Linked DNA regions of Homo sapiens: region 1 is linked to region 2. A link means that fine-mapping ties the variant in region 2 to the expression of a gene that starts in the linked region. Tissue or cell type: pancreas. Region 2 holds a variant in brackets; the other region holds the start of a gene. All regions are shown on one strand. Distances are between the middles of the regions.

What was found. PIP is the estimated chance that this variant, and not a neighbour inherited with it, causes the effect.
Region 1: it holds the start of HEG1, and the variant in region 2 is fine-mapped to the expression of HEG1 in pancreas (GTEx, PIP 0.94).

What each region holds. Positions count from the first base shown.
Region 1 is chr3:125,054,395-125,057,076 of GRCh38, forward strand. It overlaps HEG1 (heart development protein with EGF like domains 1), which reads right to left and starts at 1,603. Exons shown (of 17, transcript NM_020733.2): 1 at 1,181-1,603. The coding sequence starts at 1,496. RefSeq lists silencers at 1,097-1,256, 1,317-1,406, 1,487-1,866 and an enhancer at 2,117-2,166.
Region 2 is chr3:125,001,837-125,004,518 of GRCh38, forward strand. It overlaps HEG1 (heart development protein with EGF like domains 1), which reads right to left. Exons shown (of 17, transcript NM_020733.2): 10 at 421-479; 11 at 16-176. Among named protein-coding and RNA genes, the nearest start is that of HEG1, 53 kb to the right of the region's middle. RefSeq lists an enhancer at 1-694. The variant C/T (reference allele first, on the strand shown) is at 1,341.

The DNA.
Region 1 (2,682 bases), 53 kb after region 2:
TTTTTACAGGAGAACTTGATTTTTAAAAATCCAAACTTTTTCTTATTTAACTCTAAGAAGCACCTCTAGGTTGGAGGAAGCAAGCTAATTCACGTGCCAGAAAGTCTGCATGAGATGAGAAACTTAAATGAATTGTCAATTATGCAGACAAAAAACTCAACTTTCAGGGAAACTCCAAATCAATGTCCAGTGTTGCAAGCAACCCAGCTTATTTGAATAGCCCGGACAGAGCATATGCCCTGTGTCACTCACAGGAAGGCAAAGGCTAACACCACCACGTTGCTGACTTTGTTCAAAGCACTTTCCATTTATTTTTACTTTCATTTTGTCACATCATCACTAGGAGGCTAGAAGGAACAGGGATCATCACTTTCATTTCACAGATGGAGAAAGTGAGCGCAAAGAGACAGCAGTCCCAAGGTCATAATGGTATTATGGTTAGAATTCCACTCAGTATGTGGCATATTTTTCCAGATCATAAGAAAGAACTGGACACAAAGGTAGCAGGGAGAAGAGGTCAGTTCCTTCTCTCTGCGTGGGACAGGCGGTGGCTACCACGGAGCAACAGTTCATTGGGAAAGGAAAGGGGAGGGAGGAGGCTCAGGGATGGTCCTGTATCAGCCTGTGCCTTGCAGGGGTTCAACCATGCAACCCCAACCGCGTTCCTTTGCTTTTAAGTCGAACCAGTAGAGCGTTTTGTTTCAAACTACGTACATCCTTTGTCCTTTACAATATCCCGTCCTAGAACCCCTTAAAAATCAGTTATTTAGATGAGAAAGTCGAGCCCTGTACCTGGAGAGGCCAGTTCTGTATAGCGGAAAAAATGAAACTGGGGACCGGCTGGCCAGATATCGGAGGTGGGAGAGATGCTTTGCAGTCTTTTTCCCTTTCCTTTCCATTTTTTTTAAAGTGGGGTGGAAGAGATACAGGGTACCCCATAGGAAATAAGTTTTCTTCCAAAGGGTTGGAGGAGAACGGGATAGTCACACCCCTCAGTCCAGCCAACTGCGAAAGCGTCCCTCCCTACCCGCCGACCCTCAGGGTCCCGCACACGCCGGGCGAGGAGCCCCCACCCTGGGTCGCGCCGCGCGGAGGGGCCTACGGCTGGGGATGCAGCCCGGGGCGCGCCCACGCCCCCAGCACAGACTGGCCAGGCGCCAGGTTCCCGGCTCTCACTCACCCGCGCTCCCGCCTCTGGGGGCCCGGCCGGAGGGTCCCCGCTGTGTCGCGGCGCCTGGCTCAGGGGCCCTGTAGCTGGGGCCGGGGGTCGCGGGCCCGCGGCGCTCCCGGGGCGGCGTGGGCGGCGGCTCGCGCTCCGGGCGGCGCTCCAGCTGCAGCTCCAGCCCCGCTCCCGCGAGGGGCGCCAGGCTCAGCGCGCGGCGAGCCGGGGAAGGCGGCGGGTCCCGCGTCCCGGGGGCCGCCGGCGGCAGCAGCAGCAGCGGCAGCAACAGCAGCAGGAGCGGCGGCGGCCACCGCGAGGCGCGCGGCGAGGCCATGGTGACGGCGCCCGCCCGCGCTCACATGCCCGGCGCGCGGGGCGAGGGCAGCGGGCAGCGGGCAGCGGGCGGCGGGGGCCGCGCGGGGCCGGGGAAGTGAGCGGAGTGAGGCTGCGAGCGCGCTCCCCGCCTCAAAAGTTATCGGGAGCCGCGGGAGGGCTGCCGGGGGCCGGGCTGGCTGGGCGGAGGCGGCCCGCGGCGCCGCTACATGCTAATTAGCCCGGGCGGGTCGCTGGCTGGCGGGCGGCTCCTCCTCAGTTGACATCACCGGCCCCGCGCGGCGGGCCCGGAGGCGGGGAGAGGGCAGGAAGGGGGCTGGGGCCGGGCGCCTGGAGAGCGGCCCGGCCCGGGACAGCGGGATGAGGTCAGCGGAGCCACGGTGCTGCAACTTTTGTCACACACATGCTCCAGAGTCTTCTGAATCGGGCACCACCTACCCAACTCCTTAAACGCACAAGAAGTAGGTGAAAAGCAGGTCCTGGGTAATGTGATTAGCACCAGACTAGATTATCCCAAGTGCTTTGATAGGAGAGAGAAAGGGAACGGTCCCCTGGTACCCAGCCCGCGCTGTCACCGCCGTTATTGATTTGAAGTGTCCCCACTCCCACCCCCACCTCCCCTTCTTCAGGCCCCAGGGCTGGTGATGAGCTCGTGTTTGCCAAACCTAACACCTCACCCTCCGGCCAACGCGAGAATCCGAGTATCCCCCACGCCCTCTCAAGCTTGGATGCCGTTCCCATCCGACCACTGCCTTTGGCTCACACCAGAGTTCTGCAGAGATGTCACCGCGAGGACACCCAAACAGGCTGCAGGGAAAAGAAAACTGTGAATTCAGGCAGGCTAGGGCAAACTCATCATCAGGAAAAGAACTGCAGATCGCAAATTAAACCAAATGATGCCCAGAGAACACAGAATTTTAAATGGAAACCTATGGGGAAAGATTCAAAGATTTCATGTAAACAAATTTTCTTGGTCAATAAAGTTCCATTTGTTTCCATAACCTCTCCCTCCCCAGTAAATGAATAATAAACTGTCTAAAGTTTAGGACTGTAAGCCACCTCATTAAGTGAAGAAAGAGGGGCTCAAATGGGAAAATAACTTGCTCAAGATTCTGAAGGTAGACCCGAAGACGAAATGATTGATCTGTGAATGACCATGTGATATTATTAATTCTGGTCTCCTAATT
Region 2 (2,682 bases):
GGGCTGCCCTCTTACCTCTAAAGATCCGCCTCTGAGATCCCAAGAGCTGGCAGACCTCAGCAGAGGACTTGCAGGAGTTGACACATTTCTGCATCCTATCAGCCAGGTCAAATAGCGTCACATTGGAGGCCAGGGAAAAGGTTGTTTGCAGTGAGATCACCACCGCGTTGGACTCCCTATAGGCAAAGTTTGTGGGTTTTTAACAGCCCTGAAATGACACGTGGGTCCCAAGGCTTTTGGAAATGAATGTCATCGCCATTCACCAGTGACGGGATGGGAGAGCATGAAGGTCAGTGACCTTGGCCCTGGATTGCCCCATGGCTGGGTGAAAACAGCCCGGTTTTGTTGCTATCACCCATGTTAGAACAGCCTCCCCTTTGTACAGACTAGTTCACAAGCAAATATAATTCTGTTACTTACCTAGAGGCGTGAACTGTAGATCGGATGTAACTAGGTAACGCTGAAAAACACATATTTAACTGAAAGGAAGAACAAGCCTGTCGTTAACAGTGAGTTAGACAAAAGCCTTGGACCTAGAACCAGTTTCCTATTTTCAGGATAAAACAGGCATTTTCCAGCCATCAAGTTATCAGCACGCGGCTTTGCACAGAAGTGGTGTCCTTTTTTTGTTCCCCTCTTAAATGCCTTTCTGTTGTTCCATGAGTACAAAGAGAAAGAGGCAGAGAGTAAATCAGTGGGGAAAATCTTGGCAGGAAATGATGTTCAGAATAGCACCCTTGGATGCAAAACATCTTCAAAGAAGCAGCTCTCTTTTAAGGCCCAGGGTTTCAAACAACTCAGAGGCAACTGTTTATTTGGACTCTGCATAGTGAACGAGCTGCACTGGAAAGGCTCCTTTCAGCTACTCTAGGTCTGACAGGCCCTACATAGACGCCTCATAATCTACAATGAGTTGACCTAACTCAAAGACAGGTCTTCTTCAAAAAGGCTCTCCGTGAGAAATTACATTATGTGGGTCAAGAGCCCCTTTGTTGAGAGCAAATTAAGAGCTACTCTCCCTATGTTTGCCTTGTGCCCTTGGAGACGGCAGAAAATCCCTCTACAGCATGAAATATCAGGCCTGCTTCCCTGCTACCCTGCACAATAGGAGCTATCGAGACTCCTTTCCCGGAGTGGAGGGTCTCAGTACTGGGCCCAGTGCAGATCCACCTGTGTTCAAGGCCCATGTATCAGATACATGCCACTCTGCAGAAGATGGAGGCAAACATGGGACATTATCAAACCCTTTCTATGACATCAGTGTATAGCCTAATAGCAATGATTTATTATTGTTGTTTTATTATTAACCTGTTTTTCCAGGTTTGGTAAACAGAACACCT[C/T]GGGAAAGAACATTTGAGTGGCTTCCTCAGCCAATGATGGATTAATCTTCACTCTTTCTTGGGGACAGGTATGTTACATCACCAGTAAATTATACATTGATACTGGGCAAAAAATAGCAAGTCAAATAAGTCACTGAGCGCCACGTAATGCAAAGGACTGCACTTCTGCAAAGGGTTCTAAATCCCTGTATTATCTTAGCAGGAGATATCCACCTGCAGCACGACCAACAGGCAGCTGTGGCGAAGGGACAAGTATAGGATTAGTAGACATAAAATTCTGCTGTGTAGTAAAGAATTTAACCTTGGCCCCAGGGAAGTCAGGCCTTTGCTCTTGGATCCTGGGAGGCCATCTCTAAGCCCTTGGAATGTGCTGTCTAATAAAAACTTCTTTGTTTACCTGGGGGTGCTGGGCCATGCCAGAGAGTCCAACAATGTGATTTATGGTGGGGTTGGGTAACATGGTATCAGCTCAACCTCTAGAGGGGCTGGAGATTGAGGTCAGCCACATGACAAAGCCCCAGTCAAGGCTCTGGAGAGCTTCCGTGGTTGGCAGTACTCCCTGCATACTGGACACACTGTTGCCAGGAGGAGTTAACACTGTGCATGACTCCTCAGCGGGACGACAGCTGGAAGCTCTGCCTTTGGAACTCTCCCGGACTCTCTGCCCCGTGCATCTCTTTCCTTGGCTGATTTTAAGCTGTTGACTTTCACTGTAATAAACCGTAGCTGTTAATATAATCGCTTTTAGTAAGCTCTGTGACTCCTCTAGTGAATTATTGAAACTGAGGGCGATCTTGGGGATGCCTGAACTTGAAATTGGTATCAGTAGTGATGGTGGTTTAGTGGACTGTTCCCCAACTTTGCACCTGCTCTGCGTGGACTCAGGCAATGTCATTCACTTCCAGACCTCCCGGGGTTCTATCTGCAGATGTGCTGGCAATGCCTGTTACAGGAGTGCGCCATCTGACATCGTCCCTATCATGAAGTGAATGCTCAGGAGATAGAGAAATAGAACTAGATCCGTATTTTACACAGATAAAGTCCAAAGTCCTGTAGAAATGTATAATTCCTAGCTAATATACTAACTCTTATCCACAAAGAACAAGTAACATTGAGATTGGAAATCAATTCATCTCTAAAGTTTTTTAATGGCAAATTTCAATTTTCTGAACCTAGAGTTTAAGAACTCACTGTATAGATGAGTCAAATCTCTGACTCAGATAGCAGTTGAGAAGCAAAGTTTATTATATGAGCTTCATTTTCCTGTCTTCTTTCTTCCTCTCCATTTTCCTTTTTAGTTGTTTCTGTTTTGGGGGGTTTCTTTTGTTTTTGAGACAGGGTC